3 linked regions of the Homo sapiens genome follow. The protein of the gene in region 1 purifies or fractionates together with the protein of each later gene. This does not show direct contact. Each region holds a gene or a part of one and is shown on either strand. Other genes may lie near its edges.

What was found.
Region 2: the proteins of LHX6 (region 1) and ARID3B purify together in Homo sapiens (affinity purification with mass spectrometry; 3 studies listed by BioGRID and IntAct, with this or other methods). This does not show direct contact.
Region 3: the proteins of LHX6 (region 1) and RNF187 purify together in Homo sapiens (affinity purification with mass spectrometry; 3 studies listed by BioGRID and IntAct, with this or other methods). This does not show direct contact.

What each region holds. Positions count from the first base shown.
Region 1 is NC_000009.12:122,202,040-122,204,959, reverse strand, and holds the end of LHX6 (LIM/homeobox protein Lhx6), read left to right. Parts: intron 1-179; coding exon 180-200; coding exon of another isoform or gene 201-259; 3' UTR 260-2,378; downstream 2,379-2,920. UniProt on the Homo sapiens protein: Probable transcription factor required for the expression of a subset of genes involved in interneurons migration and development.
Region 2 is NC_000015.10:74,593,176-74,598,631, forward strand, and holds the end of ARID3B (AT-rich interactive domain-containing protein 3B), read left to right. Parts: coding exon 1-61; intron 62-2,435; coding exon 2,436-2,599; 3' UTR 2,600-4,956; downstream 4,957-5,456. UniProt on the Homo sapiens protein: Transcription factor which may be involved in neuroblastoma growth and malignant transformation. Favors nuclear targeting of ARID3A.
Region 3 is NC_000001.11:228,490,338-228,496,688, reverse strand, and holds the end of RNF187 (E3 ubiquitin-protein ligase RNF187), read right to left. Parts: intron 3,637-6,351; coding exon 3,415-3,636; intron 2,807-3,414; coding exon 2,804-2,806; 3' UTR 501-2,803; downstream 1-500.

The DNA.
Region 1 (2,920 bases):
TCAGAGAGGTGCAGTGAGTTGCCCAAGGTCCCACAGCAAGTCAGTTGACAGAGCCAGGATTTAAACTCAGATCTGGGCCCTGAGTCCACCCTTCTTCTCTGTGCCTTTGAGGTTCTCTGGGGGGCAGCAGGGTGGGGCAGGCCCCCAGCTCAGCCACCTCCCATGCCCTCCTCTTGCAGGTCATCCTTTTTCAGTACTAACGCTGCCGGCACTTCCGCATCTGCCCGTGGGCGCCCCACAGCTGCCCCTCAGCCGCTGAGATCCAGTGTCCAAGCTGCGGCCAGGAGTCCACCCACCTCCGCATCCACCCCCGTCCGCCATCCTGCCCACCACCAGGTCGGTTCCCGAGGCCTGGCCTTTCCCTCTCCTGCTGAGAACCAGAACCCACCAGGAGCACCACAGAGTCCTCCTCTTGGAAGGCAGAACTCCCTGAAATCTGGAATCAGGGTGGAAACAGCCTGTTTTTCCCATTTAAACAGGAGTCCTCTTCAACTTCAGCTGATTACAATAACAAAAGGCGGAATTGAATTGTGCGATGCCAACGGCCTTCTCATTTACAGGTTTTTTTCCCCCACATTGGCCTTTATTTACTACTTCCTTGGAACCATCTCTGAATTCTGAATAGCTGACAACCCCCAATGTTATCCACTCTGTTGCTTTTGTCTGGAAAACTCTACAGTGTTTGTGGGATGTCCCCAAAGGAAAGCTATGTTCTAATTTTATCATTTCCATCTGTCTGGTTATGTCAAGTTAATTCAGAAAGAGAAGAGACAGTGACCAACCCTGAGAGGCCTAATAGGGCAGAGATGGAGGCCTGCCCAGACTAGGAGGCAGCGGGGATAGACAGGGAATGGGGAGAAGAAAGACCCCCATTGGTTTGGAAATCAAGGAGAGGGCGGTGACATATTGGACCAGAAGAGGCACTAGCCATTTTAAGGAGAGGAAAGAGAAAACTCTGGGGTCAGGGAGAGACCCTACCCCCACCTAATTATCCAGCATATATGTAAGAAACATAGCAGCGATGGTATTCGATCTGTGCCATGACTCTTCTGAATGTTTGGACAGGTTAGAGTTGGGGACCCCTGTTGGCCACTTGTTGACCTCTCATAGTGGTGCTTGGGCCAGGTCTTCTCAATGGAAGGGGAATCCCTTATAGGGGAGAGGGAACAGAGCCCAGTGAAATGGCAGTCAGAATGTTAACCCTGGATCCATCTCTAAGTAGAGAGAGGGTGCCCATTGCCTAGGTGAGTGTGCCAAGCTCAGGATTCCAACTGGTGCCTCTGAGCTTCCCAATCAATACTTCCTGGAGCCAGCCCCACCCACCCCTGAGAACAGAGGTCAGACACAGCTGCGTAACATCCATCCTGCTACAACTCTTCCACCCCAAACAAAAGGGCTCAGGCTACACACGACCATGATTTATGTTTTCAGGGGATGCCCATTTGTCCCAAGCTTATCCTGTAATTCTAGAATTACCTGGTGTCCTGATGCATTTTCCACTAGAGGTTGCTAATCAGCATGTTTTAGCCCAAGTCCGCCTTCCTGCTGTGGTTAACCTGTTATGTTGCTTTTGGAAGGAGACTCTAAGACAGGGAAAGCAAGTTCATGGTACATACGCAGCCATTGTCTCTGTTTTTACCCATGGCAGACATTGCTAATCAATGGCAGCTCTATTTCACTGAGTCTGGATAAGGTTTCAGAGTTCAAATGCTTGACGTTGGCACTTAACATGAAAGCCTATAGGTCATTCTTGCTCTGGGATCTACAGGCAGGGTAGGCACAGGTGCAGCCTAAGAAGGGAACCTGCTTCCTCTCCCTTCCAAAGACAGTGACAGCTGACTGAGGGCAAAGAGCAGGCACCACTCAGAACGTGGTGAGTACAGCTCAGCTCAGCACTCAGTCAGTGGTAACTTGTGCCCAGCCCTGTGCTAGGCGCTGACATTAACAGGAGCAACCAGGGCCCAATTCCTGGCCTTGGAGCTCAAATCTTTCCTTTGATTTTTGCTCCTGATCATCAAGGCCCCAGTGGCAACCATGTGGTAAGTGGCCAACCAAGCCCTACCCAGGGTCACCCAACACACTCTGCCTTGAGCCTCTCCTCAGGGTCTATTCCTTGCGTGGATTATGTGGCCGTAGCATGTTACAGTTCAAACATGTCTCCACTACCCTGTTAAGAGCAGCCTGGGAACGTACAGGCCATCAAGACTATTTATTTAAATACAAAAAAAGGGGAAAACACACACACGGAAAAAAAATTGTAAGCACTTTTTTTGTAAAACCAATGTCTGTTTTGTTACATACCTTTCATGTCGTGCTTTGTAAATGTCTTATTTGTGTAATAAAGTTAATGCAAGTAGAAGTGCTGGCACTGAAATCCAGAACATGATGGGATTCCATTTCTTTCCTGCTCTCTGGTGAAGGGCTTAGGTCCCTGGCTCCCAGAATATGTGGGCTGCTGGACAGTGTAATCCTCCTTCCTGGGAAACGGGTACCATTTCCCAGTTAGTAAACAATGGATTGTGGAGGCCTGACGATGGGTTTCTTCTGTAAGTACTCAGTCACACCTGCTTCTTATCTAAGCTTTGGAGGAAATCAGGCTGCTTGATGCCCTCTGTTCCAGTCTCTGAACATACACTCTCTGCTGGGCCCTGTGCTGGCTCTGCACACTGAGAAAAGGCTCCCAGCCAGACCTTGTCCTGGAGGAGCTCTCAGTCTGGCAAATACTGTGGGAGCCAAGGGGGTGGGTGTTAAAGCTGGATCCTATCAGATGAGAAGGTCACAGAATAGGTAAGCAAGAGGGTGGGGCAGGGAGGGAGGTGCAGAGGAGCGTGTTTGGAAGATGGGGAAGAATTTAATAAGGTGAAGTTAAGGGAATATGGAACGGGCAGCAGGGCCCCAGGTTCTGCACAAGACTGGGTCT
Region 2 (5,456 bases), on another chromosome or scaffold:
ACCACGAGTAGCATTGGGAGCATTAACATGTCTGTGGACATCGATGGCACCACCTATGCAGGTGAGGCCCTGGAGCTCTGGGGGAGGCCCACGTGGCCGCAGCTAGCCACAGGGCAGCTCTGCGGCTGGCCCTGCCTCTTACCCTCTGTCTGAACACCTCCCACAGTGGCTTCCTTTTTCCTGGTCTCAGAGTTGCAAAGGTCAAGTGGTCCTCTGGACTAGTAGACTGTGGATTGTTAACAGGATGATAGGTCCCTCCCACTTTGGCAGAAACCCTTCACCTAACCCTTTTAGACCAGTGGTTGGCTCGTTAATTGAAGAAGTCAGTCAGTGTCCCACAATCCCCAGGTCTTCTCATGCACAGCCTTTCTCTGACTGTAATTCAGCTCTTCTCTTCCTTTTGCAGACTGAGACACAGGCAAAGGAACCCCAGTATAGGAGAATCAGCTTACATTGTTAAGCTCCCTGCCCCCCAGTCTTTTACAGTTATCTTTTCCTAAACCTAATTTGGCAACAGTGTTTTGTTGGTTGGTTGATTTCGCACCTTTACAGAGTCTTTCTAAGGGTTTAACTTAGTATTCATGACTGGGCACGGTGGCTGATGCCTGTAATCCTTGCACTTTGGGAGGCTGAGGCAAGAGGACCACTTGAGCCCAGGAGTTTGAGACCAGCCTGAGCAACATAGCAAAATCCCAAATCTACAAAATACAAAAAAAAATAGCCAGGCATGGTGGTGCACACCTGTGGTCCCAGCTACTTGGGAGGCTGAGGCCAGGAGGATCACTTGAGCCCAGGAGGTCGAGGCTGCAGTAAGCCGTGATTGTACCACTGCATTCCAGCCTGAGTGACAAAGCAAGACCTTGTCTCAATTAAAAAAAAAAAAAACAAAACTTAATATTCATAAAAACAGCAGTCCTTTTCCCATTCCCATTTCATTGGTTTACGGACGAGCTTGGGAACAAGCCCACCTGACTCTTGTTAAGCACAGCATTGCTGGGCGCGGTGGCTCACGCCTGTAATCCCAGCATTTTGGGAGGCCAAGGCGGGTGGATCACGAAGTCAGGATATCGAGACCATCCTGGCTAACACAGTGAAACCCCGTCTCTACTAAAAATACAAAAAGTTAGCCAGGCGTGGGGGCGGGTGCCTGTAGTCCCAGCTACTCGGGAGGCTGAGGCAGGAGAATGGCGTGAACCTGGGAGGCAGAGCTTGCAGTGAGCTGAGATCGCGCCACTGCACTCCAGCCTGGGCGACAGAGTGAGACTCCGTCTCAAAAAAAAAAAGCACAGTATTATGAGTGGGGGCCACCAGGCCTGGCCCAGGGCATCACCCACCTGTTTTACCAAGGGCCCAAGGGCATGCGGAGTGTCAGCCAGCCTGGCAAGGTGTCTCGTGGAGACAGGCGAAAGCCCTACAACTGCACCTTCTATCACAACTGGGAGTGTTTCCTCAGGGCCTACTCCCATTCTAAGGGCCACACTCCCTCAGAGCACCGCCCTGCAGGCCTCCTGGGAGCATGCTCTGGATCTCTGCTGGGCCACTCACTTCAGAGAGAGGACAGAGTGTAGAGGAGCAGTGGTGCCAAGTGGGCTCACCAGTCATGCTATGTCTGCAGACTCTGCTCAGAGGTCTCTACCTGTCACAGGAGGCCCCTGGAGGAGGTGGGGCCTGGTGCCCTTTGCCTCTTCATTGTGCTGTGGTTTGGGAGGGTTGGGGGTTGGAATTAGGTCCATGGAGAAAGCAGGGAAGTAGGAATTCAAGGCCTGGATCTTGATATCCTTTTGTCCTCTGTCAAGGAGAAAGGAGAAGGTAACTCCTTCCCTCTCAGAATGAGGAAGGGTCAGAAGTTGAAGGCTCCTCAAACCCCTGACAAGAAGGGAGCCAGTCACCCACCCCACCTGGCTCTGTCACCCAGGCTGGAGTGCATTGGTGCGGTCATAGCTCACTGCAGCTTCAACCTCCTGGGCTCAAGTGATCCTCCTGCCTCAGCCCCCTGAGTAGCTGGGACTACCCATGCCCAGCTAATTTTAAAAAAAATTTTTATAGAGACAAGGCTCTTGCTGTATTGCCCAGTCTGGTCTCAAACTCCTGGCCTTGAGCTATTCTCCTGCCTCACCCTCCCAAAGTGCTGGGATTATAGTTGTGAGCCACCACACCTGGCCTTGGTGTTCCTCTTTGTGTACCCTGGGTACACCTTGTCTCAGAGCATTTATGACATTTTAGCAAAATTACTCTGTCGACCTATCTGTCCCCCTCCCCAGCCCATCAGCACTTCAAGGCAGGACAGCATTTGGATCTTCTCCCATCACCCCCTAGCACAGTGTCTACAGCGGAGTCAGGCACAGGCTAGGCCAGCGGTGAATACTTACTGAAAGGAGCTGGCCCTCCCCTTCGCTCTTCCTCTGCCCACACTTGCTTCTCTTCCACCCACCAAGGTGTGCTGTTTGCCCAGAAGCCTGTGGTCCACCTCATCACGGGGTCTGCTCCCCAGAGCCTCGGCAGCAGCGCCAGCAGCAGCAGCAGCTCTCACTGTTCACCAAGTCCTACCTCATCCCGGGGCACCCCCAGCGCAGAGCCCTCCACCAGCTGGTCCCTCTGATGGGCAGGACCCAGCTTCCCACTTGCCACTCTCCTGTCGAGAGTGAAGGAAGTTGATGCACAGAATTTACCTCATCTCACAGAGCCCACGTCGACGAGCACCATTTGGCCAGACATTGAGAGTTTGGACGTGTCCGTCTGTCCAGGCTCCATTCAGGTCCTGCTGTACTCTGGGGGCAGGGAGAGGCTAGAGGGGCAGGACAGACAGCGTTGTCCAATCAGGGATTGTCCTGGAGAACTGGGTGGGGGTCTGTGGGTGTCCAGCTTCCTCCAGGGTTCCCCAGCCACCTCCCAGCTCAGGGCACAGTGTATCGACAATCTGTCAGCCGACGCAGGGCTGGAGGCCCTCCATTTCCCTCCCCTTTTAATTTATTTCCCTGACCCTGCCTTCTGCCATGACCCCAGGGCCACTAGTCTCTTCCCCTGTTTTTAAGTCCCATGTGGGGCTGCCAGGAGCCAAGAGCATGCCTTCATGCCCTTCTCTGCAGAGCATGGGATGGGGCCCTTCCAGCCCACTTTGCCTACTGTTAGGTTCCTGGGGTACGGGTCCCTCAAACACAAGTCTTGAATCAGTCCTCAGGGCCCCAGATCCCCCTTCTAATAGTCTGAAGGAAGAGGCTGTGAGGGCAGTTCAGGGCCAGGGCCCACAGGGCATCTGCTGATGGGAAGGCAGAGCCTCGGGGCTGCCCAGCCCTGGCACCTGCTTCACACGGACCATTCTCTGACCGCCCCCGCCAAACCTCATGCTCCCCACTTGCCCTTATTGGCCTGCTTTCCCAAAAACAGCCCACTCATCCTTTCCCCAGCCCTCTTCAGCCCTCCCCAGTCCTCCCCAGCCTTCTTCAGCCTTCTTCAGCTCAGCCCTCTTCTATTTCTTATGGGGCCATCTTGGCCTCACCATCCCCACACGTGCCGATGTCAGGTTCATTGAAATACCTCAGATTTGTAATTGTTGATGTTTGAGTCTTCAGGAAGTATTTGCATCTCTGAAATCTTTTTTATATGTGTTTTGCTGACTTTTGTTTTTTTTTTATTTTAAAATTTTTATCGTAGCACCAAAGAAATGAAAACAGATCACCCCCAAAGCCAAGCAAGTGATTGGGTAACCCGGCCCCTCTGGCCCTTCCCTCAAGCCCAGTGAGGAGGTGGGTGGAGGCATGCAGGGGAGACGACTCAGGGATCGCGGGGGCGGGGAGGTGGAGTGGAGAGGCCCGCTCTCACACCGGGTCGGGCCCTGAAACTGTACCAGTTCTGAAGACCGTTTTCTGCCACACCCCCACCCCCAGCTGACCAGGGAGGCAGAGGACACCTCCCCATCACTCAGCATTCCCAGCTCAGGGCACAGGCAGGCTGGGGTCCTCGCTGGCCTTGCCAGAGGTTGAGCCGCCCCAGGGTATGAGGAGATGAATAACTCCACAGCTCCTCCTGGACCCTGCGCGGGAGCAGGCAGCTCCTGTGCTGTAAAGAAAATTGATTCGCTTGCGGCTCACCTCAGTCGAGGAAGCCCTGGAATGTTCAGCAGAACACCACCACTGTGACATGGGGCTGTGGCAGTGGGAGACACCGCGCGTGGCGTGGGTGTGTGTGGCAGCGTGGCTCGCATTCAGTCCTGTGTAGGAGAGGAAAGGGAATCAAAAGCTTGAGCACAAACAGATACCTCAGCCCGGTAAGCTGCAGCTCTGCTCAACTGCGTCTTCTCTCAGCCCTCCACACACACTCACCCCCACTCCCACACACATACACACACACACACACATACCCCATCTCCCGAGGGCTGACCTCCTCTGGCCTCAGCCTGCAGGGTGTGGGCAGAGAAGGGCATCTGGGACGTGGTGCCAGTGAGGAGCCCAGTTGGCTGGCACTGGGCCCATTTGAAGGTGTCTCAGACATTTGGCCAGTATGTCTTTCTCAGGGGTTTGGTCACAAAGGATGGACTCTTCCCACCCAGAGGATGCAGGGAAAGCACACTGTGTCTTTCCGGTCATTGGATCCTCTCCCTTTCCCCAGGCAGCTCGCCTGGCCACACCGTTGGAGTGAACCCTCACTGCCCTCAAGGACAACAGCAGGGTGTCACCCAGAGCCCGATGAGGGGTGCCAGCAGGTGCCCCCACGAGTGGGGCCTTGGCCCAAGCAGAGCTTCCCCTGAAGGTGCCATCAGCCAGGGCAGCTCTGTCCCCTCCTGCTCTCCATCTTATATGTATTCTAACCAGGAAAAATGTGATAGCACATGGGTAGCCTAGGCAGTGAGTAAATACCTCAGATGTCCTCCTGCAGCAAGTGTCTATATGTTGTGGTTATTTTCTATCTTACATGTTCTCGAATGTTTATATTTCAATAAACCTCTACCTCTTCACACAAGCAGGTCTCTCTCAGTTGCTTTGAGTGGCCTTTCCACTGGACAGTACTGGGGAGAGGTGAGCTCCTTCAGAGTGAAAGGGGACTGAGTGAACTACTCCTGACCCCTTGATTTCTCCTGAACCTTCTCCCCTTCACCCACGCCTTCTTCAAAGGGAAAGCTCACTGAGCTCACTCTCAGCTAACCTTGTGTGTTAGCAGGTTTCTCTGGCGTTACCCCAGAAGCTCCTAGAAAAGCCTGCCCGGCAGCAAGCCACAGGCCCCGCCACGCCATTGGCCAGGATTGAGTCACGTGCCCTCCCCAGAGCCAATGGGAGCGAGGGGGCAGGGTGACCGGGAATGACCTTAGACTGCCCGCCCTGCGCGGAGGGAGATCCACTACAGGCTGCGCCTCTGCCCCTGCGAGGGGCACCCCTGGGTCTCTGGGAAACGGAATGGAGGGTCTTATGGAAGAGAAGGTTTGGAACCACCGCTGGAGGGAAGGGGAGAAGAAAGCAAGCAGG
Region 3 (6,351 bases), on another chromosome or scaffold:
TAAAAAAATGCTCAACATCATTAATCATCAGGGAAACGTAAACCAAATCACAATGAGATTATCTCACACTTCTTAGAATGACTAATTTCAAAGAAAATAAATGTTGGTGAGTATGTAAATTATTATAGCCATTATGGAGAAGCATATGGAGGTTATTCAAAAACTTAAAAAGAGTACCGTGACCCAGCAATCCTACTGCTAAGTATTTTCCCAAAGGAAACGACATGAATATATGGAAGAGATACCCACACTCCTGTGTTTCTTAAGAGCACTTTTACAACAGTCAAGATACGGAATCAACCTACGTGGTCTAGAAGCAAAGTGATAAAGGGATAAAGTGGATAAATGGCTTAAGAAAATGTGGTGTATACACATCATGGAATACTATTTGGCCATAAAAAAGGAAACCCTGCCATTTGCAACATGGGTGAATTTACAGGACATTTATATTAAGTGAAATAAGCCAGGAACAGGACAAATATCACATGATCTCACTTATATGTGGAATCAAAATGTTGATTTATAGAATTAGAGAGTAGAACGGTGGTTAGCAGGGGCTGAGACAAGAGGATTTGGGGAAATTCTAGTCAGAGGGTACAGAGTCCCTGCTATACAAGAATAAACTCAAGGTCTATTGCACAGCATGGTGACTTCAGCTGATAACCGTGTACTGTACGCAGTTGGCCCTCTGTATCTGACTGTCCCACATATGTGCAGAGGGAGGGCTGACTGCAGGGTACTTGAGTATCTGCAGATTTTGGTATCCATGAGGGGGTCCTGGAACCAATCCCCCTTAGGCACAGAGGGATGACTGTATTTGAAATTGCTGAGTGTAGATTTCAAATATTCTCACCACCAAAAAAAACATGAGATGGATACATTAATCTGTCACTCCACAATGTACATAGATATCAAAACATCACACTGTGCCCCATAAATATATAATTTTCTTAAATAGAAAGAGGTTGTGATTGACAGGGTGGGATGTTGCTGGTCAGCTAGGTTAGGTGAGGATGGTGAAGCCACTGTCGGACCTGGTGATGTGGAGACACTGATGTTGTGGGAGACTCTGCCATCAGGACCTGTCCGGGCAAGCATCACAGGTGTGCAGGGCAGGGGCAGGGATGCTCAGGGATGACAGCAGACTGCAGCAGGCGGAGACAGTGAGAAAGACAAACTGGAGGTCTCAGGGTCGGGATGTTGTTGGCGTGCTGACAAAGATTCTCTACTTGGCCAAACTCTGGCCAGGCTCTGGAATCTTCTCCTAGGGCCCTCTTTGCCCTTTCTTATGAAATCCAGTTTTAGCAAGAACCCTAATTTGGTTAACCATAATATCTGACCACCCTCAATGGTACCTGACTGGGTTCCTCTCTGACCGTTTGCAGCCAATGTCTGATCGCCCTGCCTGCCTGCAGCAAGGACTCTGTGAGGTGGGTTTAGCCAGAGCCCCCTCAGCCCTGATGTCTCCTCACAGTCATTCCCACCCATGGACCCTATACTGCTCCTCGCTCCTCCAACCCCTGCCCTGCTACGTCGGGGTGGAGCCCCATCTCCCCCCAGGCCCCAAGGAAAGGGTCCCACACCCATCTCAATGGTCCCAATCAAAGTCCTCCTCACCATGCTTTAGCACGTGTCACGAGGAAGTTTCCTTTGACACTGGAGGGTGGCCAGGGCAGGGGGAAGAGGCCAGGTGGACACACGGAGACGAAGCAAACGAGCTGACACAAACCCACTTTATTCAGCATTGAGCCAGCCCACACGCTGGGCAGGTCAAACTCACAGACATCGCACCAAGGGCCGGGGACTCAGAAGGGCTGAAAGGCTTCATCTGGAAATGGGCACCGCTCACAAGCCCGGCTATCCCCAAATCTCAACAACTGTCTGCATCTATGTCCCCGACTTTGCAATCCTGTCCCCAGTGCTGAGTTTCTGTCGACTAATTTATCTACACACAAGGATGCTGCAGGCAACTGAGCTACTGCTACAAGCTTTGCAAAATTCAACTACTAAAGGAAATGGGAGGAGGGAAAGAGCTAGAGATAACAGCAAGATGAGACACGATGGCAGGGCCTGGAGATGCTAAATGGGGTTAGCCACCTGCCAGCCCCCTCACCCAGGGAAACAGAGAAAGAGGCTTCCTTCTGCGGAGGCAGGTGGAGCACAGGGAGGGCTCCTGGGAGGCACAGGAGTGGGGTGGGGGCCAGGAAGGGGGAGGTGGACAGAGCGACTTGGATAAGGCTGGGCCGGGCCCACGCCCACCTCAAGAGGGGGGCCGCCTCCTCAGGAGGCATCAAGGTGCAATCCAGTCTTCCTTTCTCTCCCTGAAGACCTGAGTTCCAGCCTTCACAGAGCGTCATGCGCATTCTTCTTTCTGGATGCTAACCCCAAATCCGACACTCAATGGTGCACCTCAGGTACCTGCCAAGGATCTGTGGGCCCACATGGAAGGTGCAGGGTCTGGGTCCCTGGATGACGAGGTGAGGGGCAGATGGGTGACCAGGGAAGGGCATGACCCAGAGCTGCCGGGACTCATGGAGGATGGGCTGTGGCTAGGACTTCAGGAAGGGACGGGCACAGGTGGGAAGGGTCCTCAGGTCCAGCCTCTACCGGGAGGTGTTTGCAGCCCCCAAAACACGCCTCGGGGTGAAGGATAAATGGACATTGTTGAAACACGCAACTATGTAGATGGACCCAAGGCCAGGCGCCTGCCACGCTTCCCTGGCAGCCACACGCTGACACTTCCCATGGAGATGAGGATCCATCCTCCTGCCTCCAGCTCTGGGACTGCCACGGGTTGGCGCCATCACTGCATGGGAGGGGAGAGGGAAAGACAGAGAGACAAAAAGAGAAAGAGACACACAGAGTCAGAGACAGAGGCAAAAGGAGAGAGCGAAAGAGAGAGCGCACATGAGACAGCGCATGAGGTACTGTCCTGAGCACAACAAACCCAGGGCCTGGCCCAGACTTCCGTCTCCCCAGGGCCAAAGCCTTGTCACCTATGGCTGGCACGGGCAACTGAACCGTTCAGGGCCATCTGGGTTGCTGCAGGGTCTGGGGTTCAGGCCAGGCCCTGGGCAGAGGCAGAAGAAAAGCCCTGAGGTTGGGTTTCTTGGCTGCTTCTGCCTTCAGGACCCCAGGGCGAGGCAGGAGCCTTCCATGCTCGGGCACTCGGGATGCCAAGTGCCCTCCTTTGTGAAGGTCAGGGACACCTCAGACCCTCCTCAACTTAAAACCCCTTCCCATCACCTTCCCTGACCACCCACCCATTCCCGAAATTCAGCCCTGCAAGGCCACGGCAGTGGGAGTCAGGCTGGGCTTTTAAGCCTTGACTTCGGGCAATGGTCCCCCAATGGCTCGCTGCTGCCTGCGTCCACCCTGGCCCGATGGTGGGCAGACCCAGCGGGGCTCCCGCACCTGCAGCAGCATGCTGAGGCCCAGGTTGCGATGCTTCTTCTCCAGCTCCGAGACCGCCTGCAGCAGTGACCTGAACCGCTCAGTGGGGTCAGCCAGCTCGTCCTCAGGGAGCCCCTCCTCCTTCTCAGCCTCCTGCAGGAAATGCTCCTCCTCCTCCACAAAGAAGGCCCGCAGCTTCTTGTAGTCGGTCAGTGCCTTCTTCCTACGGTCCATCACGTGTCCCTGCAAACGGGTGGCAGGAAAAGACCTGTGTCCTCACCCACCCTCCCCAGGGGAAGGGGAACCTGTTTGCTCTTGAAGGAGTTAAGAACATGCCACTCCAAAACATGCTGCTCAGGCACATCGACTATTAGGCCAGGCACAGTGGCTCACGCTTGTAATCCCAGCACTCCAGGAGGCCAAGGCGGGCGGATCATGAGGTCAGGAGTTCAAGACCAGCCTGACCAACATGGTGAAACCCCGTCTCTACTAAAAATACAAAAATGAGCCAGGCGTGGTGGCACGCCTGTAATCCCAGCTAATCGGGAGGCTGAGGCAGGTGAATCACTTGAATCCAGGAGGCGGAGGTTGCAGTGAGCCCGAGTTCATGCTACTGCACTCCAGCCTGGGCGACAGAGCGAGACTCCATCTCAAAAAAAAAAAAAAAAAAAAAAAAAGCCAGGCACGGGGGCTCACGCCTATAATCCCAGCACTTTGGGAGGCTGAGGCAGACAGAACATGAGGTCCGGAGATTAAGACCATCCTGGCCAACCTGCTGAAACCCCATCTCTACTACAAATATAAAAATTAGCTGGGCGTGGTGGCGCACGCCTGTAGTCCCAGCTACTTGGGAGGCTGAAGCAGGAGAATCGCTTGAACCTGGGAGGCAGAGGTTGCGGTGAGCCAAAAAAAAACAAAAAACAAAAAAAAAAACAATAACAGAAGAGGCCTGGCACGGTGCCTCATGCCTGTAATCACAGTACTTTGGGAGGCTGAGGTGGGAGGATTGCTTGAGCCCAGGAGTTCGAGACTAGCCTGGGCAACAGTGAAAACCTGTCTCTACTAAAAATCAAAAACATTAGCCAGGCATAGTGGTGCACACCTATGGTCCCAGCAACTCGGGAGGCTGAGGTAAGACGATCGCTTGAGCCCAGGAGTTTGAGGCTGCAGTGAGCTATGACCATACCACTGCACTCCAGCCTGGGCCAACAGAGCAAGGCCTTTTTTAAAAAAAATCAAAAAACAGTGCAAGATCACCCTGACCTCCATTCTGCTTCTTAAAAGCAAATGAAATTCCCAAGTGAAAGACGCCCTCCCCATATCAAATAAAATGATTTTATCATCAAGGACGACAGGAAGTCAAGGCCGACAGAATTTGGTACAGACCTTGTGAAAACAACTCTTTCAAGCATCCCCACATCATGTAGTTGCTTTTTTACAAGTGGCTAGTCTTTGTCCAAGTCAGTATATAAGTGATTTAATTTTGCCACTTTGAGTCTTCATTTCATTATAAGGGAGCCTGTGCTGTATAAAACTTGTGTTAAATTAATATGCCTGGCTGGACACGGTGGCTCACACCTGTAATCCCAGCACTTTGGGAGGCCGAGGTGGTTGGATCACTTGAGGTCAGGAGTTCAAGACCAGCCTGGCCAACATGGTGAAACCCCATCTCCACTAAAAATACAAGATTAGCCAGGCGTGGTGGTGCACACCTGTAGTCGCAGTTACTCGGGAGGCTGAGGCAGGAGAACCACTTGAACCAAGGAGGTGGAGGATGCAGTGAGGCAAGATCGCACCACTGCACTCCAGCCTGGGCAACAGAGCAAGACTCCATCTCAAAAAAAAAAAATCCTATGTTTTTTCTCCCATTAACCCATCTCCCTTTATTTTTTTTTTTTTTTTTTTTTTGAGATAGGGCCTCACTCTGTCACCCATGTTGGAGTGCAGTGGTGCCATCACAGTTCACTGCAGCCTCAACCTCTTGGGCTTAAGTGATCCTCCCACCTCAGCCTCCCAAGTAGCTGGGACCACAGATGCAACACCATACCTGGCTAATTTATTAATTTTTGTACAGATGGTGGTCTCACTATGTTACCCAGGCTGGTCTCGAACTCCTAGCCTCAAGCAATCCTCCTACACCTCAGCCTCCCAAGTTGCTGGGATTACAGGCATGAACCACTGCACCTGACCCTGTTAGTTTAGCTTATGTCAGTTTAATTCTCCCGCCCAGCCTGGGGCCCTAAAAGGGGAGAAATAGAGTTCTTTCTCCCCTACACTGCAGTGCTCAGCTGCACAGGAAGACTGTCCCTCTCCCATCTCCCATGGCCAAGGGGACAGTAAATCCTTGAGTGGCCCTGCTAGGTCTAGAGCCTGTCAGGCACGTGACTGTCAGGGCAGGACACACACCCATCTTGCCAGCAACTGTCCCTGCTGTGCCCACACCAGAACTCCAATGGCTGAAAACCATCCCATCAGCCTTCAACAAACAGCATTCACACTTGCCACTCTTCAGCTGGTTTTCAGCCAACTCCTAACCTTGCAAACAGGAGAGCAGAGCAGGATGCTACTCTGATTTTACTCAGTCATGGATGGCTTCCACCTGGCCCTGGGCCACACAGGGCAGGTGACACCCATAGTCATGAGGGGCCAAGGCTTTTGTTGCTGAGAATGCAAATGACAGCTGGGTGTCTGCTGGCTGGCTGATGCAACACGCTGCAAACTCCTTCCTTTGGATTTAGGTGGCTTCTCTCATCCCAGCATCTAAGCCACAAACCCCCAAAACAGGACAGATTGAAAGCTCCAACCTGCTAAAATCTGTGGGCAAAACAATTCCCTTGGGGTAACACAGGGTTACTGAAAACTTGGAGGTCCCCAAAGCCTTCCAGCCTCACTTGCACTGGGCAGTGTTGACCACTCACAAGGCAAGGAGAAGTTCAGAGCAGCCCCAAGGGCAGTGTG